Linked DNA regions of Homo sapiens: region 1 is linked to region 2. The links come from fine-mapping of genetic effects on plasma protein levels. A gene starts in region 2. The other region holds a variant in brackets. All regions are shown on one strand. Distances are between the middles of the regions.

Region 1 (16,723 bases), 26 kb after region 2:
CAAGATACCAACTTATTAGAAGGTTGCCTGGTGAGCAGGAAGGCAGAGGAAAGTTCTGCTTGCTATAGAATCTGAGGCTTGTTGAATCTGAGGCTTGCTATAGAATCTGAGGCATCGCTGCCTGTGGCACCATCCGTCCAACAAGAGTAGGCCTGGCCAGGGCCAGGACACTGAAGCCAACCACCCCGGGGTACTGTCTCCCAATCAGATGGCCACTGCCAGCCTCTGCCCATGAGGTTTCCCCTTTCTGGGCTTCCATTGGTGGCCACCGTCCCCGTCTTCTGATGGGCACTGTCTTTAACATTCCTCTGTGCTGTAGCTCCATTCTGACCACTGAATCTTGGAATCATTTCTTAAGGTGACTTTCTATATCTCTGTTCGGAATCATTTTGTATCATTTTTTGGTTTAATTCTTAGCATCTTACTTCCCAATATGTAGCTCTTACAATGCACCTTACACTTGCCCCTGTGTCTCAACAAGATTATAAAACCTTAGGGGGCCGGGACCATCTTCCTTTCTGGCCCAAAGTTGGACATCTGGACAAAAGCCCATCACGCACAGCCCTTGATGCTTTGCTCTGCTCTGGACTTGGGATGCCTGGAGACTGGCAGGCACAGAGGGTGTGGGGTGGCTGGGAGCTGAGCAGTATCTTCTGGGCCAGGACAGTTCTCTCCGAGGCCTCCTGAGCATGCAGTTAGGGCTGTACAGCCTCAGTTTTGTCCTCAGCCAAAAAGGGATCTGTGTTAGTGGAAGGAGAATGTGGCTGCCTCCACTCCTGTGAGCTGCCTGAGGGAACCAGATGGCAGGAGGGAAACAGAGCACCTCCAGAGAGCACCTCAGGGCCCAGCCTCTAGAAGGAACTAGGCATGGGTGCAACCAAATGAATGAGCTGTGTCCTCATCCCTCAAACCTAGGCCAAACAGGTGAAGAAAAGCATTGAATGCTGGGAGTTGTCAGCAAAGAGGATAAGGGTTAAGCTTGGGGCTGTGTGGATATCCTCTGGGTGATTTTTACAGAGGGTTCAGGATGGAATGGGGTAAGGAGAGGACTATGAGGGGGTCAGGCAGCAGACGCGGATGGTGTTTCCACACACTGAAGAGAAAACTGGGTGAGTTCTCCTCATTCAGCCACCAGCTATGGGCCTCAGCTTCTTCCCTATTCATAAGGAAGAAGGGGGTGGTCAGAGAATCTTCTGGGTCTAGTCCAGCTCTGCCATTGGTGGCTTGGAGGAGGGCTGTCCACAGAGGAGGGCAGAAGCAAACACTGGGGGATGGAGGCTGATGATAAGAGGGAAAGGGGACAGCAGCCCAGCGTCAAGTATCTGCTCTGTGCTGGGACAGAGCTGGGCACTTCGTCCACACCGTCTCACGTATCTTTACGCTGACCCCTTGAAGATGGCATTTATTTGCTGCATTGATTTAGGGGTGAGGAAACCAAGGAGCAGAGGGATTGGCAGAACCCTCCAAAGTCACTCTCCTGGTATGCCAGAGCTGGGATTTGTAATGAGGCTTCGGGTTCCCAAGTCCCCAGGCCTCCACGTTGGTGGGTGGGCTCCTGAAGAGCAAGTGGCTCTGTGTCTGGGTATGTGCCTGAGTGGCTGAAAAGGAAGGGGTTATCAAGTTGGTTTTTAGATTAGTGCTGTGTTTCTTATATTTGCTAGGTTTTTTTTTTTGTTTTTTTTTGTTTTTTTTTGAGATGGAGTTTCGCTCGTTACCCACGCTGGAGTGCAATGGAGCGATCTCGGCTCTTCACAACCTCCACCTCCCGGGTTCACACAATTCTCCTGCCTCAGCCTCCCGAGTAGCTGGGATTACAGGCATGCTCCACCACACCCGGCTACTTTTGTATTTTTAGTAGAGATGGGGTTTCTCCATGTTAGTCAGGCTGGTCTTGAACTCCCAACCTCAGGTGATCCACCCACCTCAGCCTCCCAAAGTGCTGGGATTACAGGCATGAGCCACCAAGCCCAGCCCATTTGCTAGGTTTTTGCTAACTTGGTTCTCAGTAATTTTCCTTAGTGGGGGTGAAAAATAAGGATTAAAAAAAAAAAAGTGAAGATAGAAAATGGTAGGTGGTTAAGAAAATCTTAGCTCCTGATTAGCACAGAGTGAAGAAAGGGAAAGTCAACTGGAGGTCAGGAAGGGAAGTACAGTTTCAGTTGTTTACCTGTTGAGGAGATACCTCAGTTACAACAGAGTAAAGATGGGGGCGTTTCATGGCAAGTACTAAATGGGTTGCATGAAGCAATGCTTTTAAAATACAGTAAAATGTTAACATTTGTTAAATCTAAGTAGTGGCTACAGATACTTTTGGAATTAATAATGTACTCATATTTTACAGAAGCAAACAAAACGTCTGGCCAGAGGCAGAAGTACAAAACATATAAAAGAAATGACATGGCAGATACACAAACATATGAAAGGAAAACAGTGAAAGGAAGGAACATGCATGTGATTGATGAGAGCCAAGTCCAGAAGAAAATGTAATCCAAGGAACAGGAAAAAAAATTCCCAGTAGTAGTCTCAGCTATAGAAAAATGTAAAAAAAACATGAATTCAAGAAAGTAGGCACTCAAAGCTGAAACAGATGAAATAACAAGGAAAGAAACTGACGGCACTTCTTCAAAACTCATACATGAGAAATAGCAAGAAAATGAACAGATATGGCTAAAAATCAATCTGATATCAAGGAAAGGCCTGAGATAATCATGGTGAATGAAGAGAAAAGAGACATGCATTAAAAAGAGAGATAGCTATGAAAGGTATAAAAAATATCAAGACAATGAAAAAAAGAATAAAAATAGAATTTAAAACAGAAAACCTAACACATGAAAAAGAAAAAGTATTCATCAAGAAAATACAAGACATCTTCCCTAGAATGAAGAATAGAATTGCACCTCTAAAAAGCACACTTTGTTCCAGGAAAAACTGATAAAGAACAAGAAAGAACTATTCAGACATATAGATTTAAAAAGAGAAAGAGAAAGGAAGAAAAGAAAGAAAAAAAAGAAAGAAAAAGCCAAGGGAATATCTCGTTAGAGGGTATCCTCTTAGATGGGACTCTTCGGCTGGCCTCAGTGTTGTCCCTACCAACAGTCAACACCAGATGACAATGGAGAAATATATCCAAATTCTGAGCAAAAGAAGGTGTGATGCAAGAATATTTTATTCAGCCAAGGTGTGCACAACTATAAAGACCACAGAAACATTCCCTAACGCAGAAAATACAGAACTCATGAGCCATTCCTGAGTCATTCCTAACGGTGCAATTCAGCCAATCAAGAGTTTGTTTGTTTGTTTGTTTGTTTATTGAGACGGAATCTCGCTCTGTTGCCCAGGCTGGAGTGCAGTGGTGTGATCTCTGCTCTTTGCAACCTCCGCCTCCTGGGTTCAAGCTATTCTCCTGCCTCAGTCTCCCAAATAGCTGGGATTACAGGCGCCTGCCTCCACGCCCAGCTAATTTTTGTATTTTTTATAGAGATGGGGTTTTGCCATGTTGGCCAGGTTGGTCTCGAACTCCTGAACTTAAATGATCTGCCCGCCCAGACCTCCCAAAGTGCTGGGATTACAGGCATGAGCCACTGTGGCTGGACTTCAATCAAGAGTTTAAAAATAACAACTCAGAAATGAAGAAGCAATGGCAAAAATACTGGTGGTGAGCCACAAAATCAGTTTAAATATAAAATGAAGGCCGGGCGGGGTGGCTCACATCTGTAATCCCAGCACTTTGGGAGGCTGAGGTGGGCAGATCACCTGAGCTCAGGAGTTCAAGACCAGCCTGGCCAACAGGGTGAAACCCCGTCTCTACTAAAAATACAAAAATTAGCCAGGTGCGATGGTGTTTGCCTGTAATCCCAGCTACTCAGGAGACTGAGGCAGGAGAATCGCTCAAACCCGGGAGGCAGAGCTGCAGTGAGCTGAGATTGTGCCATTGCACTCCAGCCTAGGTGACAAAGTGAGATTCTACCTCAAAAAAATAAATAAAAATAAAATAAAATGAAGTCCCAGCTACTTGAGAAACTAAGGCTGGAGGATTCTTTGAGGCTGGTGAGAACAACATAGTGAGACTTTGTTTCAAAAAGAAAGAAAAAAAGACTGTGGTGAGAATTAAGGTTTCAGAGCAGAAGGAAATGCATAGACTTTAAAAACAAAATCAATATAGGAATAAACAAATTGAGGAGAAAGAGCAAGCTATTTCCTTATCTTTAGAGCCTTGGATTATGCCATCTAAAAAGGAAACCTTATTAAGAACAATTCTAGTTTCTTAATGTTTCTCATAATATTAACTTCAGGGAGATCTTTTGGGAACTACTAATTTTTGTGGGGAAGAAACATCTACTTCAGTTTCTTTTTCTCCTGTTAGATTCACATAAAATTAGATTCAGAACTTTTCTTTTTAAAATAGCATTTTAATATAAGCATTTCTATTTAGCATTCTACCTAGAAATACCTTAGACATACCTAGAATGCTGTTCACCTAATGTTAGTAGTTATCTCTGGGTGGTTTTTGGTTTTTTGTTTTTAAGAGACAAGGTCTCGCTCTGTTGCCTGGGCTGGAGTGCAGTGTTGCAATCATGGCTCACTGCAGTCTCAACCTCCTGGGTTCAAGCGATGAGGCTGAGGCTGGGACTACAGGTGTGCGTCACCACACCCAGCTAATTAAATTTTTCTTTTTTTTTTTTTTTTTTTTTGTACAGACAGGGTCTTACTATGTTGCCCAGGTAGGTCTCAAACTCTCGGTCTCTCCCCTTGGCCTCCCAAAGCACTGGGATTACAGCTGTAAGCTACCGCACCTGGCACTGAGTGGAGGTTTCCATAAGATCACCCAAACTGTCTTCAGTTCTTTATAATAAGAATGTATTATTTTAAAAAAAATAATAGAGTCATTATTCTGAAAAAATAAGATTGGTGAAATGTCTGTCTTCAGCATGGTGTCTAGAGGCTTGTCAGTTTGATTTAGTAAGAAAGCCTAAAGGACATGTGTCATGTCACAGGAATGTGCAGTAATAAGATGGAATTCAAACTAAGCAAAAATTCATACTGAATTTCAAAAACATCATGGGCTAGGAATTATAACTTCTAATTAAAACCGCCTGGATGCAATTTGATCTATGGATTCAATGCAATCCCAATCAAAATCAAACACAAGCTATTTTGTGGATATCAATAAACGGATTCTAATGTTTAAATGAAGAAGCAAAAGACTCAGAATATCCAACTTAATACTGAAGAAGAACAAGGTAGAAGACTGACACCACTCTGACTTCAATATTTACTATAAAGCTATAGTGATCGAGACAGCGTCCTATCAGCAAAAGAACAGACAAATATATCAAAAGACCACGAGAGAGAGAGCCTAGAAACAGATCCACATAAAGATACTGATTTTTTTTTTTTGTTTTTTGAGATGGAGTCTCGCCATGTTGCCCAGGCTGGAGTGCAATGGCTCGATCTCAGCTCACTGCAACCTCCACCTCCCAAGTTCAAATGCCTCTCCTGCTGCAGCCTCCCGGGTAGCTGGGATTCCAGGTGCCCGCCACCATGCCCAGCTAATTTTTGTATTTTTAGTAGAGATGGGGTTTCACCATGTTGGCCAGGCTGGTCTCAAACTCCTGACTTCGTGATCTGCCCGCCTTGGCCTCCCAAAGTGCTGGGGTTACAGGTGTGAGCCACCGCACCCAGCCAAAGTGTTGATTTTTGACAGAGGAGCAAAGGCAATATGCTAGAACAACTGGACATTAACATGCAAAAAATGAATCTAGACATAGACCTTATACCTTCCATAAAAATTCGCTCAGAATGAATCTAAATGTGAGTATAAAATGTAAAAGTATAAAACTCTTAGAAGTTAACACAGGAGAAGGCCCTAGATGACCTTGGTTATAGAGGTGACCTTTTAGATACAACACCAAAGGCATCATCCATGAAGAAACCAATGATAAGCTGGACTTTGCTGAAATTAAAAACTTCTGCTCTGGAAAAGACAATGTCAAGAAATGAGAAGACAAGCCACAGAACTCTTAAAACTCAATAGTAAGAAAACAACCAACCAGACTATAATAAAAAAAAAATGAGCAAAAGATCTGGAATCCTCACCAAAAATGATATATAGATGGTAAATAAGAAAACATGTTCAACATCGTATGTCATTAGGGAATTGCAAATTAAAGCAGTAAGGTGTTACAAACCTATTAGAATGGCCCAAATCCAAAACACTGACACATGCTGGTGAGGCTGTGGAGCAACAGGAACTCTCATTGCTGGTAGGACTGTAAAATGGTACAGCCACTATGGAAGACAATTCAATGGTTTCATAAAAAGCTAAACATACTTAGGCCGGGTGCGGTGGCTCACACCTGTAATCCCAGCACTTTGGGAGGCCGAGGCGGGCAGATCATGAGGTCAGGAGAGCGAGACCATCCTGGCTAACACGGTGAAACCCCGTCTCTACTGAAAATACAAAAAATGAGCCGGGCGTGGTGGCGGGTGCCTGTAGTCCCAGCTACTCAGAAGGCTGAGGCAGGAGAATGGTGTGAACCCAGGAGGTGGAGCTTGCAGTGAACTGAGATTGCACCACTGCACTCCAGCCTGGGTGGCAGAGCAAGATTCCATCTCAAAAAAAAAAAAAAAAAAAAAAAAAAAAAAGCTAAACATACTCTTACCATATGATCCAATTATTGTACTCCTTTGTATTTAGTTATATGAACTGAAAACTTCTGTCCACACAAAAACCTGCGCATGAATGGTTTTAGTAGCTTTATTTACAATTGCCAAAACTTGGGAAGCAAACAATATGTCCTTCAGTAGATGGATACATAAATTCTGGTATATCCAGACCATGGACTATTATTTGGCACTAAAAAGAAATGAACTATTGAGCCATGAAAAGATGTTGAGGAAACTTATGTGCCTATTACTAAGTGGAAGAAGCCAGTCTAAAAAGGCTACAGGCTGTATGATTCCAACTATTTGAACATTCTGGAAAAGGCAAAACTATGGAGACAGTAAAAGATCTGTGGTTGCCAGGGGTTAGTGGGGAGAGAGGGATGATCAGATAGAGCATAGAGGATTTTTAGGGCAGTGAAACTACTCTGTATGATACTATAATGGCAGACATATAACACAGGACAACATACATTTGTCCAAACCCATATAGGATGTAAAACACCAACAGTGAAGTGAACCTAATATAAACTATAGACTTCAGGCGATAATGACCTGTCAACGTAGGTTCATTGACTGTAACAAATGCACCACTCTGGTAGGGATGCTGATAGTGGGGGAGGCTGTGCACATGCGGGAACAGGGGATATATGGGAACTCGC[C/T]GTACTTTCCATTCAATTTTGCTGTGAACCTAGAACTGCTCCAAAAATTAACAAACAACAAAAACCCCAGCCTGGACGTTTCCAGGAATTAGGATGGTCCAGTAGAGGAGGGGCACAGGAGATGAGAAGGGGAAGCAAAGGAGATGAGGCTGGAGTGGTGGCCAGGACTTCTCCTGTGGGCAATGGAGAGTCACTGAGGAGCAAGGAAGGGAGGTGACCAGACATCAGGGCAGCTACATGGATGGTGAATTGGGATGGGGAATGTGCGGCGAGAAACCAGTGAGGTAATTACTGGCAGAGTCTAAGAGTGAAGCAAGCTCTTAGACAGAGACAGCAGCAGTGGAGCTCGATATGTGATAAGGAGGCAGGATTGTCCTGAGCTTGGTCCTGGTCAGAAGTAGAGGCTAAGAAAAAGGAGAGGAACCCCTTGCGGCTGCCATAGACTTTTTGGACATGGTGATGTAGAGGTGCTTTGGAGTTGGCAGAGATGACCTCCCATCACGTGGATGCACAGGGCTACTGCTCAAGTGAGAGGTGTGGGCTGAGCATAGACTGGAGGTGATCTGCCCATGGCTGGAGGGTGAAGCATGGAGTTGAGATATCCCAGGGAGAAACTGCAGGCAGAACCATAGGAGAGACCAAAATTTCAGAGACAGGCAGAAGAGGACGATCCTACAAAGGAGACAGAGTAGGAAGAAGAGGTCCAGGAAGGGGTAGTGAGTACCACAGAGGCCAAGGGAGGGAGGGACGGGTTCTCCACAAGTCAGTATCAAATGCTATAGTGGGGTGGAGAAAGAAGGGGACTGAAAACAGGCTATCTCATCATGTTTTAACAGGGAATCAAGCCCTTACCCCCCGCCCCGTTTTTGGGGAGGGCTGAATTCCAGTTTTCAAGCAGGTAAATGAACAGAATTGTGGAAAGGAATAATATATCTTATTCCTGAATAAAATATATTAGGGTTGGAACAAACAAGAATGGACATTTTGTAAAAACAAGTATTTTAAAGTGGACTCCAGACTTCTTGACTTATAGCCCGACTAATCATTTAACAGGATGTGACTTACCATCAATAAGACAACAGCAGAATAAATGACAGCACACCCACGCCACGGAGTATTAACCATCAAGAAGAAGGGACTGGAGCCCTACCAGCTGACCTGAAGAGAACTCTGTGAGGAGTTGAGTAAGAAAAGCAGGACAAAGAAAGGGCCTGTAATATGATCCCATTTTCGGTAAAGCAGTAACAAAACCTTGTTTATGATTAGAGAGCATGGAGGAAATTATGGAAAAATACACGGCAGAGTATGGCTGTGTATATATCACAGTTACCTGACTAGGAAAAGGGGTGGGGTAACATGGGGAAGAGGAAGGGGCAGCAAGTAACAGAGAAAAATTAAACAGGAGGACACTTAACAGCATATAAAAAATGGTCATATTTATGCATTTATATGAAAGTATATATATATATAATGGCTAAAAAATGAACACACACAAAAATGTCTGACTGAAATCCACCGAGTTAACTAAGTGCTGAGAGCAGCCTGTCATCTGGGGGCAGCTGGGGTGAGCCAGCAAGGGGCCTGGAGTCCCGCACACATGCCTGGCCGTCCTGCGAGAACCAAGGACGCCGTGGGTGAGGCATCACTGGGAGGGCATCTGGGCTGTGTGCAGCAAGCTGGTGAGAAAAAAAAAGGCGTCCAGGGGCTCACCTGCATTCTGGGTGAAGTGCACAGACAGGGGAGGGTATTAACAGGGGGACTGAGATTTGAGAATTCATGGGAATAGCAGATGAGAAGCCGCTGTGGGTAACGTCTGGGGTGCGGAGAAAGTGGAGGCTGTGAATGCAAGGACAGTGCTGGGTGCAAATGGTAGAGACCAAAGCCAGGCGGGCACAGAGGAGCCCCACAGGCCGGCCTCATGAGCGAGATATGGCTAGAAGTCTCTCATGTCATGGGAGAAGGGGAAACAAGAGAAAACTGGAAATTAAAGAATGACACCAACAAGAGGAAAGTTCTTATCAACCAACACTTTTAATTGCAAAAAGTAAAAACCTTCATTACAATAAACTTTAATTTACATACATTCTTCACATGGTGGAAGTCTTTACCAGTTTGTAGTATCCTGCACTTGAACACATACTAAAAGCTCAAGCCATTCAGAGCCGCTGTGGCTGTGACAGCTGCCTGCCTCCCTCTGCTCCCTGGGACCATCCAGGGCCACCACACCCTGCTCCCGGAAGGAGAGCTGCAGCTGACCCTGGCACCTGTCCCCGATGATGGCGGGAGCACTGCGCTGAGTCCCTGTCTTGCCTGTGACTCCTCCTTCCCCGACCCTCGGCATTGGTTACTGACCCTTCCCCAGGGTGGAGGTGAAGGAAGGGAAGACTGCAGCCAACATTTTTCTGAGGGTAAAACTGTGGAAAGAAGTATGGAGGGAAGCCTGTCTGGATAAGATGGGGCTTTCTGGGAATGTCATGTGTCTGCTGGCTCCTGTCACCTCCCTGGAAGGGTCCACAGTGCTGGGGGGTTGCAGTGTGAAGAATGGGATGCTACTGTGAGTAAGGGTGGCTGCACAGGTGAGCCCCCTGCCCCAAGGAGCTGCTGTGGGGAGCGATGGTGTCAATGAAGCCTGGCACAGAGAAGATGTCCCAACTCCCCAGTTTCTGTCTGAAACTCAGACCTCGGCTGGGTTCCTTTCTCCACACAGTGCTTGCCGCCATGGCTCATTCTTGGATTGATGGCTGCTGCCTGCCTGACAGACACACTAGGCAGAGGCGGAAGGGTCTCTGGTCCAGCCCTGTCAAATCCTGACAGTTCCAGGCCTCCACTTAGTTATGTAACATTCCTTCCCTCCACTAGTCTGAAAAAGTCTGGACATTTCGCAGTCTCCAGGGAGAGGAATATGACAGATGTATTTGGCACTAATGCTTAAATTATGCAGGGCAGGGAAACCAGAGACACTGAGGGACCTGGACAACAGACAAGCTGGCTGAGGGTTTCTCTTCAAGGCCAGCATTTAGTCACACTGCGTCCACGGTGGGTGGACTTGGATGTGGTGCACGAGAAGGAGAGCACCTGTCCGTCTCCCTGACATGCTTCTGGAAGAGGCTGCTGGGGATGTGGAGACTGGGGGTGGGGAGGACAGGGAAATGCCTGCTGCTGGTGACACAAACACATTCCCGGAGGCTTCCGTGTTTCATTTGCTACAGAGCTGTCTCCACAAGCGCCTTCACTCTCCTAGCTTCCTGACCCTGCCATGCATCGGTTCTGTACACAACATCTGCAGGTCCAAATACAGAGAGAATTTCAGCCTAAAGTACAACTTTAAAGCATATCTCTGACACTCCCTTCCTTCAACAAATTGTAGTGGGTGATGGGTCACCACTGAAAGGTAATGAGTGTGGAACTTGTATACTCAAGAGAGCTTTTCCTTCATTGTCAGGAGAGCTCAAAATCCTAAGAGGCCCTTCTGTTTATAACTGATTCTCGAAAGGTAGACAAAATTGCCTCTCTCTGTGCAAACAGACATGCGCCTTTCTCTCTCTTTCTCCTATAACCTGGCTTTCTCCTTTATGGACAAGGAGATGCAAACATTTGCTTTGGGGTTTGAACATTCACTACGAAAGTGACTGGGTAATAAGCAAACTCATTCCAGGCTGTATTAAAATGACTGAGGCCATCACCTGCAGCTAAGAAATGTGAGTTTTTGTTTTAAAGTAAGTGTACACTGAGTCCTATGCTGGGTTTTGGTAGAAGGGAACAGAAAACCAAGAATTGAAAAACAAGTGATGTAAACTCCAAGGGGACCCACAACTGGAATTGAGCAGAGTCCCTCCTCTGTCACACATCTGGAAGAATGTGGAGACAGGAAAATGGCTGGACACAGTTGTGTTTCAGCTACATTCACTCTTAAAAAGAGTTTTCAAATGGGGAGGGGAAAAGTGAAAGGATTTTTATAAAAGTCATATGGTTAGATTCTTTCCTCCTCCACTTCTGTCCAGCAGAGTTTTAAAAACAAACCCTGCGGAGTTCCTGGCTTGCTGACCCCCATCCCTGGGTTCTCCCACCCCAACGGAGGCACATCTGAGTCAACGACATCCACAGCTGTCTTCTTCGGCACCATGCCGTGATGCCGCAGGAAAATGATGTGCTATGGAACCAGCTACCTACCTGCCAGCGGTTAACTGCTCTAAGCCTCCACTTATTTACTTGCAAAATGGGGATCTAACACCTACTTTACAGGATTGGGTGAAGATTAAAGGAGATCATGTATATCAGGCACTTTGTAAACTGGAATGTACTAGACAAATGCTATTATTCCTTTCTCTCAGAACATGAGCCCCCCCAATCTGCTCTCCTCTCCTCCCCTCCCCTCCCTTCCCTTTCCCTCCCCTCCCCTCTTCTTTTCTCTCTCTCTTTTTTTTTTTCTTTTCTTTCCTTTCCTTTGACAGAGTTTCGCTCTGTCGCCCAGGCTGGAATGAAGTGGCACAATCTTGGCTCACTGCAATCTCCGCCTCCCCGGTTCAAGCAATTTTCCTGCCTCAGCTTCCTGTGTAGCTGGGATTACAGGCGCCCACCATCACGCCTGGGTAATTTTTGTATTTTTAGTAGAGATGGGGTTTCACCCTGTTGGCCAGGCTGGTCTTGAACTCCTGACCTCAAGTGATCTGCCTGCCTCAGCCTCCCAAAGTGCTGCAATTACAGGTGTGAGCCACCATGCCCAGCTTGAACCACTTTTATTTTATTCCTTCTCTTCCCTAAAAAAAATTGAGGATAAGCTCTGCCTTTTTTCATCAACCATAATAAGTATGGTATCCATTCACTACTTGACTGCTGGAGAGCTCAGGACATTTGGACAGAATGCTTCAAACTGGGGCCAAAGTAGCCTGTCTCCTCAGAGAGCTGACTTCTGGGCATACGCATCTCTGTAGTGGGAGGCCACATGAAAGTGAACCTAACTCATGTACAGAGGTCATCGCCATGTCACTTCCTAGTAAATGCTCAATAAACTTGTAAACCACCCCCTCTCTTTAGAGCCCTACAGTTTTGTTCTTATTGTGGTGGTGGAGGTGGGGAGTTGGTTAGGTGGTCTTATCGTCACCCTGCAGCCCCACTTTCTCATCCTGACAACCCTCTTTCCCACACCGGGTCATACAGAGGGACTTTTGATGCTTCCAGCTAGATGGCAGGGGCATCCTGTGGCATCCTGCTGTGCAGGGCCTTGATCATCAGAAAGGGACTGGCTGGCAACCCCTAGCCACTCCTGTCGCTCTGGCCAGTAGTAGATTCTGCTTATCAAAATTAACTTGAGAAGTTGAACTGCTTCTGTGTATGTAGAAAACCCTCTTTGGAGAATTTTCCCCTAATACAAGTTTACATTCAAGTCTGAACTGGGTAGATTTTAAGTAAAATGAGTAGTATATCCATAAAAGTCTCCACTTATCTTCTGCTACAGTCATTTTTTGTTGAAGTACAAAATGGGACTTAGGGGACTTTCCCACGGGATGCCTCAGAATACCAACACATGCAAGGGTTTCTTATGGACATTTAAGATGTGAAGGGCAAGAGTGAAATGGGGAAAGGAATACAGAGTAACTCACAGAAACAAAACAGAGATCTCAGTAATCAAAATAGTTGCTTTGTTCCTAAGAAACCCTCTCTTTTGTTAATGGGTCTGATTTTTAAAAACTCTCAGAGGCCTCTAAAGCACTTGTTTACACATAGCCCTTCCCCATGTACAGCCAGGGTAAGGACACTGCAGAAGGCTGTAAAAGCTTGCACAAAGCCGGCCTCCAGATGATCCCTCTGACTTAAAACCTCTTAAATCATAACTGCTTAACAACATGACTTTCATACGTACACAAGTTTTGTTGTTCCTGTATTCATCCACACAAGGGGTTGATTAAGAAAAAATTCCCTCAGGTACAGTTCATCGGAGTTTCACTGAAGCCCGTGGAGGAGGCTCTGATGTTTCTATCCTGAGCTCTGTGAACTCTGCTTGTCCTTTGCAAGCCCATAGACAAACAGGCCATTCAAGTGCTCAATGGTCCCCACTGCTGTTCATGAGACCCACAGAGAAAGAGGGCCTGAGAGATGAGATGCAGGCTCCTCCAGGAATGAAGAGGGCTTCACAACCATCTTCACTCGTCATTGTCTGCCTCTGATCCATAATTCTGACATAGACACCTACTGCATCCTTTGATTTCTGCAATTCAGAACCAGAGGCCAAAGTGTAGTTTGCTTTTTCTTCATCTTGGCAATGGCATGACCAGTGGCCAGCTATCTAGTGGTGTCAATAAAAGAATAATAAAGAGAGAAAAAAATAAAAGGAACAGGAAAAGAACATCCTTATTTACACCATTTGATTGCTACCTACTAAAAGCACTTAGGAGAAAACAATGCACATAGTGAATCATCCAATCAGAAACACACAGCTTTATATTATTACAAAAAAGAAAAACACCTCACCTTGTCTTTGTTTCGCAGCACAGACAGAAATCATTTTAAGACAGAGGATCACATAGGCAGTTGTACACCCAGCTGACAAACACTTTGGGTCTGGATTTCCTCCCCCAACCACATTACATCAGCTTTGACACATCTGTAAAACATCTTCTCTGCAGAAAGTCAGACCCTAAAGATCAAACCCAGGGAGGCACCCTCTCCCCAGGCCAGCTACTCTAACTCATAACCCTCTGAAGACACTTGGTAAAGGCAACACAGCTGACGAGAGCAGTGCTGCCTCAGCAGTAGTGGGCTCTGGCCCCGCCAAGGCAGGGAGGACTAGGGCCGAGCTTCTGAGAAGCCATCCAGATAGGCAAGGGAGAAGGGGAGGGGGTGCAGTGGGGATAAAAGAACCTGATGAAATGGAAGAAAGCATTACCTTGGGAGTTACCATTTTGAATTATTATATAATCAGACTCTAGCCTGGCATCACGGAGACTCCAAGAGCCACGGACAATGGGAAAGAAGTGTACTTCTTGAATGCAATTCAAAGTTATCTGAACTTTTTTCACTGTTTCTAGATTCCACTTTGCTTGGGAAACTACAAGAACTTCTTTAATCAGCCATGGCCTTCCAAAAAGTAGAGTGATGTGGCAGGCAAGACAGGGACAAGCAGGCCCACCTGGTAAAGGATGGCTCTGACATTAGAACCTGTTGGCTGCCCTCTCCACTGCCAGGGAAGGAAGCTGGCCATGCAGGTGAAGAAAGGCACCAGCCCTGTTTCCTGCCTGAAGGGCAGCATCAAGGTCATAGTGTCCAAAGGCCCGGAAGAGGTCAGTCTCAGATGGGTGCTGGCAGAGTCCTAGCCAAGTGGCCAGGCTGAATCCTTCCTGAGCCACCTGCAGGAAGAGTCAGGAGGGCGAGGCTCTGGCCACTGCCTTGCAGCTCACAGCTGGTTCACACATGCATGCAAAGGGCAGGTAACTAAGTAACCAACCCCCAGAAAGCAGTTTCATCGTTTTTGTTTTTATTTTTCCCCTTTCAACCTGGTTTTCGGCTCTGGAAGCTGTTCCTGTGCACAGTTCTATTTCCTACAGTTCTGAGAAAGCGGTTCCATCGCAGATGACCAAAGGCTGGACCCCTCTGGCTATAACGTAGACCTTCCAGTGGGTGGTGTCGACATAGCCTTGAGGGGAAATAGCAAGAGGAAGGCATGTAAATGTCAGAGGGTGGGCACACCTGTGGGCACGAGCAAGGCAGGTCTGCCAGAGCTGGCCCTCAGGGTGCACTGCAGAGTCAAAGACAAATCTTTTTCTATTTAATTTAGTTTCCTTTTTTTTCTTTTTCTTTCCTTTTTTATTTTTTAAGAGATAGGGGTCTCACTATATTGCCCAGGCTGGTCTTGAACTCCTGGGCTCAAGTGATTCTCCTGCCTCAGCCTCCCAGAGTGCTGAGATTACAGGTGTGGGCCACTACACCTGGCTTAAAGACAAATTGCTCTGAAAGTCTTCTGGCACTTCCTAGCATAAGTATTCCTAGTTATTATCAGTCCTCTTTAAATGCTTTATCACCACCCCTCACCCAGGGAACTGTGAATCACAATTCAGCAGGCTTACAAAGGCAGGATGCTCTAGATGAGGCTGCTGTTGGGCATCAAGTCTCAGCTTTTACAGCAAGAAGACAGAATGGATTCCGAGGGGACACAAGACCTACTAGCCAATTTTCCTGTGTCTATCTATAATGTGGTTTCATTACAGAACATCCAGATTAACCTAAACCTAAACCAGCATTGCCCAAATTGGGTTTGGCAAACAGTAGTGTCCTGTAAGATATTCCAAAGAAAATAGGTTCCATGGCCAAGTAAGCCTGAGAAACACTAGGTTTCCCCAAGGCTTTTCAACATCTTTGATACACTAATAATGTACTATGCATCAACAAGACAGGCATTTCCCAAAGTCGACTGACTCGAGACCCTACTTGCCAAGGGTCTTTTCAAAGGCCTTCTGGTCCCACCTGTGGGGTCATGAGTAATCTGAAGAATCGTTTAGGAAACACTGACCTATCATTTGAGTGGGCTATGAAGGTAAACCTAAAAACTTCAACCTTTCAATAATCCCCAGTGATGCTGAACATCATTGTGCCTATAGTTTACAATACTTTTAAAAATTCTTTTTTTCTTTCTTTTTTTTTTTGAGACGGAGTTTCACTCTTGTTGCCCAAGCTGGAGTGCAATGGCGCAATCTCGGCTCACTGCAACCTCCACCTCCCAGGTTCAAGCAATTCTCCTGCCTCAGCCTCCCGAGTAGCTGGGATTACAGGTGCACACCACCATGCCTGGCTAATTTTTTCTATTTTTAGTAGAGACGGGGTTTCATCATCTCTTGGCCAGGCTGGTCTCGAACTCCTGACCTCAGGTGATCTGCCCGCCTTGACCTCCCCAAGTGCTGGGATTACAGGCGTGAGCCATCGCGCATGGCTTTAAAAATTTTTAATTCAGTGATTTTAGAGACAGGGTCTCGCTTCATTGCCCAGGCTGGAGTGCAGCGGTGCAGTCATAGCTCACTGCAGCCTCAAATTCCTGGGCTCAAGAGATCCTCCCAACTCAGCTTCCTGAGTAGCTGGAACTACAGGCGTGTGCCACCACGCCTGGCTAATTTTGTAATTTTGGGTAGATACAAGGTCCTACCATCTTGCCCAGACTGGTCTTGAACTCCTGGGCTCAAGCAATCCTCCTGCCTTGGCCTCCCAAAGTGCTGGGATTATAGGTGTGAGCTACCCTGCTCAGCCCCTAACAATGCTGTCTTGTACACTTAAAAATTCGTTGAGAGGGTAGATCTCATGTTAAGTGTTTTTACCATAAGAAAATAAAATTTTAAACAAAAAAAATCTCTTGATGGGAAATTTATTCTAGCGTACTATGGGCCCTGCTCATCTTTAAATGAAGAGCACTGAGT
Region 2 (12,565 bases):
CTACTCGGAAGGCTGAGGCAGGAGAATTGCTTCAAACCGGGAGGCGGAGGTTGCAGGTGAGCCGAGATCGAGCCATTGCACTCTAGCCTGGGCAACAAGAGCAAAACTCCGTCAAAAAAAAGAAAAAGAAAAAAGAAAAGAAAAGAAACGTTACTTCTGGTGATTGACACAGTTGCTCCTCTAGCCACCTCCTGGTCCAAGTCTCTCTACATTCGTACTTGCCCTTTTTCAGGGGACTTCTCCAGCGGGATCGCGGTCCCTCACACGCCCCCAGCAAGACTGGCCTCGCCCGTTTGAAGCCTTCTGACCACGCCCACCGGTCTGGCCCCAGCCCGCTCCTCGAGACCCTAAAGTGTGGCGACACCCACCTCGCGCGGGCCCCCCCGAAGCCGCCAGACTTTCTAACATCCTCCCTTTGAAGGGTTGAAATCCGGCCACTTGGAACGACAGGGCGCCAAAGTGGCTGCGCGTGGGGGGCTAAGGGAGCCGCCAGGGGCCCCCGGTGGTCGCATCCCACCAGGCTCCTTCCCTGCCCACGTCCCGCTCAGTCCAGGGAGGCTCTTAGACCATCCAGTCTGCATCGCATCATTTCCACACCCCCTGCCCCTACCCATCCACCCGTGGACTCACCACAGAGGGAGTTCTTGCAGTGGTAGCCAGAGGGACATTGGGAGCACGGAGTCCCCTCCTGGTAGGGCCGTTTCCCCTTCACGTTCCCCCTACAGGAGGTCAGGAGGATGCTGCGGGGAGGGGGTCGACCCCTCCCAACCCTCTCCCCAACTCCTATACACACACCTACTCTGGAAATGCCCTTGGGTCTCCTGACTGCCAGCCACTGACTTGCTGGGCGAACTTGGGCTCCTCCTGGCCCTCTCTGGCAGATGACAGCAGACCCCCATTGGTGCCTTCACAGCTCCCTGGACAGTATTGCTCCAGACTGACCCCTCTCCTCCCACTCCCTCAGGCTGTGGCCGACTCTGCCCTCCCCTTGGCTCTGCCTGTGCCTTCCCCCTCTCCATCTCCAGGGTTCCCCCCGGCACTCACGGAGGCTCATAGTTGCACACCAGTAATTCGATGTTGGTCTCCTCAACACCCTGGAGCTTCTCACAGAAGTGGGAACCACAGCCGATCCTCTCTGTCTTGGCCCATACCACCTGATGAAGGGCAAACCTAGCAGCTCAGCCCCATGCGAGGTGGCATGGTGCCTTCCTGGCATCCCACTACACCTGCCTTACAGGAGTGGAGAGAAGAGGCACCCTATAGCCTGTGACATCCACGTCCCCAAGGCCATGCAGGTTCAGGACAAAACTCTAACCAGGGGGAGGGATGGGGGAGTTTGTCCCTAACAGTCTACTCTCCTCTGCCAACCACACATACCACTTTGCCAGGTCTCTTTTCCTCTCAAAACCTTCCCTCAGCTCCAGGACTGTGATATACCCTCATTAATTTTTTTCTGTGGGCTAGAAAAAAAGGCCTAGAGGCCCTTGCATTTTAAGTGAAGGATATATCCAAACGAAAGAATCTCAAATGGTAGAATTTTAGACCTCAGCAACAAGAAAAGTCCAAGGAGGGGAGCAGGAGGAGCCATTTTGGAAGTGGAACTTCCCCCAAATCACAGGTGAGCAGGACCTGTTCTGGTTGTTTCTCAGTGTGGGTCTCTTAACTGCTAGAAAGACTTCTATCTTTATCAAACAGAAAGTCCAACAACATTTGTGTGCTGCCATGGGGTGAGACCAGCAGCCTTGCCTTGCTGGTTCTAGGTTCAATCTGCCCAGGAATCTCTGCTGAAATCAGCTGAAGGTCTCCCCGTGTTGAGCACCTTCTGGGCAGAAACGACTCCAGAGTGCATGCACCCTCAGCCCCAGAGAAAGCTGGGGTGGAGCTGGGCTGACTCACTCCCTGCTGGGTCCTGATAACAATCCCTGCAGGAGCAAGTGGGTGGGGGTAGAGGGAGGGGGGGGGTGGAGGGAGAGGGAGGGGTGGCAGGATCCAGAGGGAAAGGGCCAGGAAGGGTGCTGGGCCCTCACAACTTTCTGACCTGGGTGGGTGCTGCTGGGATTTCCTCCCTAAAGATGAAGACTAAAAATACCATGAAAAAGAGACACTGAGAAATGGAATTGGTGGATGTGGGTGGGAAGATGGTTGGTTTCTTTTCTTTTGTTTGTCATGTTATTATTTGTACAACACATAAGCACTGGGAGGAGAAAAAATAATTCAGTAACACTAATGTTAATTCCCCTACACACACACACACACACACACACACACACACACACACATCTTATCTGCAAGCCCAAACTTTCAAAATGCAGTGAGAACCCAGACAGGAGCAAAGTGTGACTGGGGAGCAGGAAATTCTATCAGAAATCTCCCTGAAGCCTTTCATTCAGCCACAATTTGTTCTTCATCGTTATGCATAATTGTTAAATGCAAAAGAAAAACTAAGCAAAATTGTCAATTTGCTTTATTAGTCCCTGGCAGATGAGAAGTAGCAAATTAGACACCATAATAAATGCAAAAGAGCCACAGAGAGAAGTTAAGGGACTATCTGCTGCTGGGGCAAACAGCTCTGCACTATCTGGGGGAAGTGAGGCAGGATCACTTGGAGCCCAGTACAGTATGGCCTAGGACAATAACCATGGTCCATAAAATTGGCTCTGTGACACCTAACATGTCCCACCGTCCCCACCCCTTTTTATTTATTTATTTATTTATTTAATTTTTTTTTTTTTTTTTTGAGACAGGGCCTCCCTCTGTCGCCCAGGCTGGAGTGTAGTGGTGTGATCACGACTCACTGCAGCCTCAACCTCCTGGGCTGAAGTGATCCTTCCACCTCCGCCTCCAGAGCAGCTGGCGCGCGCCACCGCGCCCAGCAAAGTTTTTTGTATTTTTTTGTAGGGACAGGGATCTCGCCATGTTGCCCAGGCTGGTCTCCAACTCCTGGCCTTAAGCGATCCTCCCAGCTCGGCCTCCCAAATTGCTGGGATTACAGGGGTGAGCTACGGCGCCTGGCCTAGCAGACTAGGAGCAGCCGACTCCGTCAGAGTCTTAGACAGCGTATTAGCTGCAGTGAGAGGACAAGATTTGCAAAGTGTCTGAGGGGGCTTGGAGTGAAGCCCGCCTACTTGCAGCGAGGACGCTTAGGAGGGGTGAAGGCAGAGGTGGCCCCGCCCAGGGAGCACGTGGCCCCACCCCCACGCCGCGAGGCTCCGCCCCGCCTCGCCCGCCGGGCCCACACCTGCGTGTAGTGGCCGCACATCTGGCCTGGGCTGCAGGTGGCGGCGCTGAGGTTGTAGTGCTCACGCTCGTGGTGCCACTCCTCCATGGCCAGCGGCACGTCCATGCCCTCGTCTGTGATGGCGAACAGATTCTCGCCGCGGCGCCCGCGCTCCTTGTTGTGGCCCCACACGCACTGCCGTGCGTAGGCCTTGGCGAAGGCGGCCAGCTCCTCGTCCCATCTCTGCAGGGCAGGTGAGAGAAGGGAGGTGAGGATGCCCACAGATGCTGTGGGGACCAAGCAAAAGGTCGAGGAGGTCGTGGGGAAATCCTTCCGGCACCTCCTTAGCAGGGTGACTCTTGGGCATGGCCTAGAACAGGTCTCTGCTCTGGGTGGGCGTCTGTGGGGCGGTGAAGGATGCCACCCCAGGCCGTGGAGCTGGACCATTCACCAGCTGTGTGACTGCACGGATTGTCTAAACTTTCCGCACCCTCAGAGGGCTGGGAAGAGTGGATGAGGTGGTGTTGGTGACAGTGTTATTATTAAAAGCCTCATGTGAAAAAGGTGGCCATACATGCCCCTGCCTACCTCCCAGTCCTCCTTGAACTTCTCTGAAGAGCACAAGATCACGGTGTGATCGATGTTGAGGGGCTGGGTTGTTTATTCAGCCCATTTCCCTACCCCTCAACCATGAACCTGACTTGAGGGCCGGCACCTTCCTCTCCCTCTAAGCCCCCACCCTCCCCTTGGGTCACCCAGCCCCCATGCCTTTACCCTCTGCAGGCTCCCGCCCCAGTGCTGTTCCTAACTGCTCCCAACCCTTGTCAACGGCAACCCCCTTTCTCCAAGAAAATTAAGCGTCTCTATGTGACACTGAATGTCACAGGCCTCTCACCAAGGGGCCTACTTTCAGAGCCTTGGTAACCCACTGTCAGACCCCAGTGACAGTGTTCTCCAGTGGGGACCTCAGGTGAGATGGTGAGAGGGGGAATTTTAGGTTCGGGGCCTTTGCGATTGTGTCCCTGGCTGAGAGGACAGGCCGAGTGTGGGTGGGAAGAGGGATTAACAAGGCATCCGACCCAAAGGATTGAGGAGGGGAAACCTGGATCCCATTAAACGCTGTCCTTGGCTTCTCCTGGAAATCCATGGCCTGGCGGCAGCTCTTGCTCCACCCTATGAGGGCCCAGCCAGCTCTGGGAGCCAGACAGCCCATAAAGCGCCAAGAGCTTGGGTGACCCTGAGGGGAGGTGGCTGTGTGGCCACACCTACTCCCCACCCACTCAAGGCTTTCAGGAGCCGCTGCCTGGCATGGGGATGGGTGCACCTGGCTGGGATAGCTCCACAGCTGTGACCTTGGGTGAGTATCTTTCCCTCTCTGGACATTTTTGTCCCAAATCACTGGCCCCTGAGATTCTCTCAACTCTGGCAACAGTGGGAGACTGGGAGTGGGAAAGGGGCAGGGCGCTGGGGGCCAGGGTCAGGGTGTCTGAGATCACCTGCGAGGTGCCGGGCTGGACTGTAAGTGCCATCACGGTAGGGCATGGATGGATCCCCAGTGTCTGGCGCAGTGCTGGCACATAGTAGGTGCTCAACAGATACTTGTCAACTATTGATGACTGAGACAGGGCCCTTCTTAAAGCAGTCTACCCCTACAGAGCCTGGCTGTAATTTCCATTCTGACTAGATATCTGGAGCCCCACCATTAGCATCATTGCTTTGGTCTTAAGGATTCTCAGTCAGTCATCCAGAGCCCCCTGTGGAGTTTGTAAGACTCTCAGCACCCACCCACATTGGCCACATGGTCACCATCTAGAAGCAAGTCCATTCATTCATTCATTCAACAGTCCTGGGCATTGTGTCAGCCCTGGGACAACAGCAGGAACCAAGAAGCCCAAATTTCCATTGACATAAAAGTCATTTGGGCCACCACATGGTAAATGACAGATGTGCCACAAGTACTATAGAGGCACCAAAGAGGGCCATCTAGCCCAGCCAAAGGTGGAGAGGGAGACACCAAGCTAAGTGTTAAAAGATGAGGCATTAGTCAGCTGGAGGGGAGAGGCATCCTAATCAGAAGGTACACATCAGCAAAGGCATGAAGCTGGGAAACATTTTGGCTGGGAAAAGACAAGCTGTTCAGGTGACAGAAGAATAAAGGGCAAGCGGGAGAGGAGGATGGAGAGATAGGCAGGGGCCAGAACACACAGAACCTTCTCAGTCAGGAGCTGGAGCTTTAACCTGAAGCAGTAGGGAGCCATGGGAGCCACTGAAGGATTTTGAGCAGGGTCAGGCCCATGTGTTGGATTATTCATTCTGACAGCAGAGGCCAGAAGCTGGGGAACAGGTAGAGGCTATCCTAGGAGTCCTTGTGTGGAAGAATGAAAGAAACCTGAACCAGGATTGTGCTGAAAAGAGAAGGGGGTAGGGGTAAGGGTTAGATTTCAAGGACAATTGAACCTTCGGGGTGGCAAAACTGGTGCTGATTAGCTCTGGAGGCTGAGAGAGAAGGAAGAGTTCATGATAACCCCCACCTGCCTCACCCTGGATCCATTCCCTCTTTTGTGTTAATCAGACACTTACTGAGCACTTACTGTGTGCCAGGCATTCTTCTGAGTGCTTTACACATATTCACTCACTTAACCCTACAACCACTGTAGCTACAAGGGAATTATCCCACTGTTATCATCCCCATTTTACAGATGAGGAGACTGAGGCACAGAGAGTTTAATTTGGCCAAGGTCACAAAGCTAATAAGTAACAAAGCTAAGATTTGAACCCAGGCCATTTGGCTGCAGAGTCCCTGCCCTCACCACTGCTGAGGTTGAACCTGAGTCTTGTCCTGAATGTTTCCTGGCATCCCAGCCCCAGCCTCATCTCCTCCTCCTCATGTCACTCCCCATTAGGCAGCAGCATATCCCCTCAGTATCCCAACTGCCTCCCAGAATGTTGCCCCACTCCAAGGCGCACCTCTGTCTGAGAAGCAGCTCCCAGCCTGTGTGGCCCCCAGTCTCAGCCAGCAAGACTGTAGGGCATCAGGGATCTACAGGTGGGGAAACTGAAGTCCAACAATGAGTCACAGGCCTCAATCAGGGAGCTGTTGGCAGAGCTGCATCTGTGACGCCTGGTTTGTTGTCCACCTTTCCTCGATGTGCAGGCTGGCACAGCTGTGAACGGCAGTGCTGGGTGTGTGCAGAGCTCTTCCTAGATCTTTCTTACGTGTCATCCTGTCTGACGCCCAGGGCAGGGATCGCCAGCCCCATGTTTCCATCTGGAAACAGAGGCCTTTGAAGGGAAAGGGGTCCACCCAGAGTTACTTCAGCCAGATCACATTAGGCTGAGGTTAGAACTTAGGTTTGGGGCCCCAGGCTCACTGTTATGTTCCCCAAGGTGCATCTGTTCTCTCAGGCACCAGCTCCAGGGGTCCCTGAACACTGCCCAGCAACCTCCCCAGTCACCTGAGGGTGGCTGGAGGGGACAAGCTAGTTCAGCCCTCAGGGAGGGCAGGAAGTGGGTGAATTTCTCACTTTATCTCCTTTAATTCTGCATATAGACAGCCCGCCTCTCACCCTACCATAAATAGCTCTTCCTGACAGAAGTAACCAACCCTAAATCTGGCTTCTGTCTCCTGTGTGCATGTACATGTAATGTTTACTACATCTGCGTGTTTCACCAGGACATAAATAGTATTTTTACATGTTTTCAGACTTCATGTAAAGAGATCCTACTGTGTATTTTTTAGAGATTTTATTTCCTCCCCCATTCAGTATGATATCTGTGAGATTCAATCCACACTGGTATATACGTAGCTCTAATTCTGACCGCCTTTTACAGATGAGACACGGGATCGGCAAGGTTACAGGACTTGCCTCGAATCATAGGTCTTGTAGGTGACCGAGACAGAATTTGGACTGTGTGATCCAGAGCCCTCTCTGCTTCTGGATCCTGCTGTCACCCACCTCCTTAGCACCTGCCTCCTACTCCACGTGCCCACGCCCATCCTGCTGCCCTGCTTCCTCTTGTCCTCTCCTTGGCAGGCATGTGAAAGACCGTTTTCACAAAGGTGTTAAGAACTTCCCGGGTTCCCCCACTGAGGGCACATGCATTTGAGGAAGTGCTGGGGAAAGCTCATTGGAGTGGGAAGCCAGGGCTTTGGGTCTGGCTCTACCAGCTGTGTGACCCCAACAAATCCCTCTGAGCCTCACTTTCCTTATCTGTATTATGAGGCTGCTTATAGGGGCCTGTGAATTTTATTAGGCGGGTGCAAAAGTAATTGTGGTTTTTGCCATTTAAAGTAATGTAATACCATGTCAGGGACTCGGGGACTCTGTCACTGACCAGAAAAAGGAGAGGAATTCTGAAATAGCTTCAGCATGAGGAGCAGGGTAAGAGAGCCTGGTGACAGACCCTGGCCAGCACCCCTTCCATCCCAGCCAGCAAGGGCCGTGGCCACACTTACCATGTGCAGCATGTCTGAGGCCGTCGGGGATACCTGGGCCCGGTAGAGGTTGTGCAGCTCCACCATCAAACGTTTCTCCTCATCTGTGAGGGCTCCAACGGGGCCTGTGGTGGCCACCAGCAGTAGCAGTAGCGGCAGCAGAAGCATCAGGAAACTGCAGGAGCCGTGCATGGTGGCCAGCCGTCTCTCCTTCTCCCGTCCAGGGGTCTGGCAGCTGGATTTAAAGTCCTTCCCACACAAGCACCACCCTGGCTGGGGTGGGGCAGTGGGGGCCGTGTTTGAGGCCCAGCCCGACTCACACAATGTCTCAGGGAGGGCTGGGCGCTTTGGGTCCCGACCAGCATCAAGTGCACTCCCCTTGGAGTCCTTGGCAAAAACCTCCTTTCTCTTGGTAACGGGGGCTCAGGCCAAAAGCTGTGTGAGTTCCTAAGTTGTGGACAGATCCTTCAGGGGCAAAATCACAGTAACCTCTGCAGAGCTGTGACTGGTTGCACCCAGGTCACACCCACTGTGTGTTGAAGATAGATAAGAGAAAGGAAACCACAGACCCTACCCACAGAGGAGTGGGCAAGATGAGGAAGCTATAGGCTTTTGAAAGGACAGAGGAAGACCAGATGTATTTGATAAAAGGCTGAGCCAACCTAAATCAGAATCCTGGTTCTGCCCCTTGCTATCTGTGTTTTGGCAGCTTTCTCAAGTGAATCAGTGACAATAATAGTACCTATCTCACAGGACTAGAGGGAAGATTCAATGACATATAATGTATGTAAAGCACCTAGTATGGTGTCTGGCACATAGTAGGCCCTCAGTAACAGTAGACAACCCACTCATGTGGCCTGGGCCTTAGCAGGCTACCAGCCCCCTGTGGAGGCAACATTCTTGCCTGCGGGGGGAGAGGCCAAGGTCTTCCCCACTCTAGCTGTATTCAGGAATAAGGCCTTTCACTATGGCAAAATTTTGGCTTCCAGGTATCCTCTCTGAATGCATGTGCTTGACATGCTCATTTGGAAGTGGGATGCTGGGACCCCTGTGCTCTAACTATGTAGAAATATAATGTGTCTGTTTCTTAAATCAAGAGAGAGCAGAAAAGCAGAAGGTTGAATGAGCTGATGCACCAGGAGCTCTGAGGGGAAGGTATTGGAAGGGAAATAGCCTTAGCAGTCAGGTGCTGGCATTATAATGACCTTGACCTTGCAGGGGCCATGACCGGTTCATGAAGCAGGAAGCTGGAACCAGTACTCTTGAGGACAGCTGGGATCCTTGAAGCCTGCTTCTTCAATGAATAGGGACCTAGAAAAAGTCTACCCACAGGCTTTGGAAGATGACAAGAAAACCTGTCCCTGCCTGAGTCTCCAAGTAAAAATAAAAACAAAACCAAGATGGATTACACACACATACACACACACACACACTTATTAGAATTAATAAAGTCAGCAAAGTTGCAGGATACAAAATTAACACATAGAAATTAGTTGTTTCTATACACTAATAATGAAAAATCCAAAAAGGAAATTAAGAAAACAATTTCATTTATAAAAGCAATGAAAAAGAATAAAAAGAATAAAATTCTTACCAATAAACTTTTTTTTTTTTTTTGAGATGGAGTCTCGCTCTGTCACCCAGGCTGGAGTGCAGTGGCATGATCTTGGCTCACTGCAACCTCTGCCTCCTGGGTTCAAGTGATTCTCCTGCCTCAGCCTCCCAAGTAGCTGGGACTACTTGCCCACCATGCTGCCCACCATAGCTGCTACCATGCCCGGCAAATTTTTGTATTTTTAGTAGAGATGGGGTTTCACCATGTTGGCCAAATGGTCTTGATCTCTTGACCTCGTGATCCGCCCGCCTCGGTCTCCCAAAGTGCTGGGATTACAGGTGTGAGCCACTGCGCCTGGCCCTTAGCAATAAACTTAACCAAGGAAGCAAAAGACTTGTACGCTGAAAATCACAAGTGTTGACAAACAAAGTGAAAGAAGACACAAATAAATGGAAAGTCATCCTATATTCATGGATTAGAAGACTTGATATTGCTAAGGTGTCAATGTTGCCTGAAGCAATCTACAGATTCAATGCAATCCCTATTGAAATGCAAATCATAATATTTTTATAGAAACAGAAAAATCCATCCTAAAATTTATATGGAATCTCAAAGGACCCCAAATAGTCAAAACAATCTTGAAAAAGAACAAAATTGGAAGTCTTACAGTTTCTGATTTTAATATGTAACCACAAATCTACAATAATTAAAATAGTGTGGTATTAGTATAAAGACAGACATTTAGACTAATGGAATAGAATAGCCCAGAAATAAACTCTTACACATATGGTCAAATGATTTTAGACAAGGGTACCAAGACCGTTCAACGAGGGAAAGGCAAGTCTTTTAAAGAAGACTTAGAAAACTGGAATGTCCACATGCGAAATAATGAAGTTGAATCTTTACCGTAAGTATATTAAAAAATTAACTCCAAAATGGATTAAATACCTAAACATAAAAGCTAAAACTACAAAACTCTTAGAAGAAAATATAAGGGGGACTTCTTGGCATTGGATGTGGCAAGGATTTCTTGGATATGACACCAAAAGCATAGGCAACAAAACAAAAATAAATTGGACTTCATTAAAATTAAGAACTTTCGGGGGCAGAGTGTAGTGGCTCATGCCTGTAATCCCAGCACTTTGAGAGGCCAAGGTGGGTGGATCACTTGAGGTCAAGAGTTCGAGACCAGCCTGGCCAACATGGTGAAACCCCGTCTCTACTAAAAATACAAAAATTAGCTGGGTGTGGTGGCAGGCGCCTGTAGTCCCAGCTACTCAGGAGGCTGAGGCAGGAGAATTGCTTGAACCTGGGAGGCAGAGGTTGCAGTGAGTCAAGATCCAGTCACCGCATTCCAGCCTGGGTGACGGAGTCTCAAAAGAAAAAAAAAAAAAAGACACAATTTCCCATGAACTGGGAAAAAATATTTGCAAATCATGTATCTGATAAGGGATTAATATCTAGGATATATATTTTGTGGGTTTTTTGTTGTTGTTTTTGAGACAGGGTCTCGCTCTGTCACCCAGGCTGGAGTGCACTCGCGCAATCTTGGCTACTGCAACCTCCGCCTCCCGGGTTCAAGTGGTTCTCCCACCTCAGCCTCCCAAGTAGGCTGGGACGTCAGACATGCGCCACCATGCCTGGCTAAGTTTTGTATTTTTAGTAGAGACAAGATTTCGCCATGTTGGCCAGGCTGGTCTCAAACTCCTGACCTCAAGTAATCTGCCCGCCTTGGCCTCCTAAAGTGCTGAGATTACAGGCATGAACCACCACACCTGGCCAATATCTAGGATATATTTTTAAAACTCCTACAACTCAACAACAACAACAACAACAAAACAATTTGAAGTCGATTCAGTGGCTCAGCACTTTGTAATCCCAGCAGTTTGGGAGGCTAAGGCGGGCCGATCGCTTGAGACCACAAGTTCAAGATCAGCCTGGGCAACAAGGTGAAACCTCATCTCTACAAAAAATACAAAAATCAGCTGGGCATGGTGGCATGCACCTGTAGTCCCAGCTACTAGGAAGGCTGAGGTGGGAAAATTGCTTGGGCCTGGGAGGTCAAGGCTGCAGAGAGCCGAGATCACACCACTGCACTCCAGACTCCAGCCTGGGCAACAGAGGGAGAGCCTGTCTCAAGAAAAAAAAATTTGATTAAATAGGCAAAGGACTTGAAAATTCATTGTTCATTTATGCAATTATTCATGCAATTATTCATTGTCGAAAAGACATTTCTCCAGAGAAGATATACAAGTGGCCAATTAGCACATGAAAAGATGATCGACATCACTTACCATTAGGGAAATACAGTGAAATACCACTTCACACTCATTAGGATGGCTATTATTAAGAAACAAAACAAAACAGAAAATAGCAAGTGTTGACAAGGATATGGAGAAATTGAAACCCTTGTACATTGCTTCTGGGAATGTAAAAGGTGCAGCCACTGTGGAAGACAGTGTGACGGTGCCTCAAAAAATTAAACACAGAATTACCATATGAGCCAGAAATTTCACTTCTGGGTATATACGCGAAAGAGTTAAAAGCAGGGACTTGGCCGGGCACGGTGGCTCAAGCCTGTAATCACAGCATTTTGGGAGGCCGAGGCGGGCGGATCACCTGAGGTCAGGAGTTCGAGACCAGCCTGACCAACATGGAGAAACCCTGTCTTTGCCAAAAGCGCAAAATTAGCCGGGTGTGGTGGCACATGCCTGTAATCCCAGCTACTCAGGAGGCTGAGGCAGGAGAATCGCTTGAACCCAGGAAGTGGAGGTTGCGGTGAGCCGAGATCGTGCCATTGCTCTCCAGCCTGGGCGACAAGAGCGAAACTCCATCTTAAAAAAAAAAAAAGCAGGGACTCAAACAAATATATTTGTACACCGGTGTTGATAGTAGCATTAGTCACAATAGCTAAAAGGTGGAAACAACCCAAATGTTCATCAATGAATGAACTAATAGTGTAGTATACACAAAATGTACGATCACATATACAATGGACTATTATTTTGCCTTAAAAAGGAAGGAAATTCTGACACATATTACAACATGGATGAACTTTGAAGACATTAGGCTAAGTGAACTAAGCCAGACACAAAAGAACAAATCTTACATGATCCCACTTATATGCAGTACCTAGCTAGAGTAGGCAAATTTATAGAGACAGAAAATAGAATGGTGATTGCCGGGGGCTGGAGGAAGGAGAGAATGGGGAGTTAGTGTTTAGTGGTGTAGAGGTTTGGTTTGGGAAGAGGAACAAGTTCTGTTGATGGACGGTGGTGATGGTGACAATGCTGTGAAAGTCCATACTTAATGCCACTGAACTGGACACATAAACATGGGTAAGATGGTAAATTTTATG

The links. PIP is the posterior inclusion probability: the model's chance that the variant is causal. The UK Biobank Pharma Proteomics Project read protein levels with antibody pairs (Olink). The fine-mapping took linkage between variants from a reference panel, not from the people measured, so its PIPs are less certain.
Region 1: its variant is fine-mapped to the plasma level of the PI16 protein (UK Biobank, PIP above 0.99).

The regions. Positions count from the first base shown.
Region 1 is chr6:36,921,579-36,938,301 of GRCh38, reverse strand. It overlaps C6orf89 (chromosome 6 open reading frame 89), which reads right to left. Exons shown (of 9, transcript NM_001286635.2): 9 at 9,338-14,955. The coding sequence ends at 14,861. Among named protein-coding and RNA genes, the nearest start is that of PI16, 25 kb to the left of the region's middle. The variant C/T (reference allele first, on the strand shown) is at 7,326.
Region 2 is chr6:36,950,040-36,962,604 of GRCh38, reverse strand. It overlaps PI16 (peptidase inhibitor 16), which reads right to left and starts at 7,867. Exons shown (of 7, transcript NM_153370.3): 1 at 7,674-7,867; 2 at 3,239-3,460; 3 at 1,045-1,154; 4 at 631-719. The coding sequence starts at 7,844. RefSeq lists enhancers at 2,963-3,462, 3,463-3,964.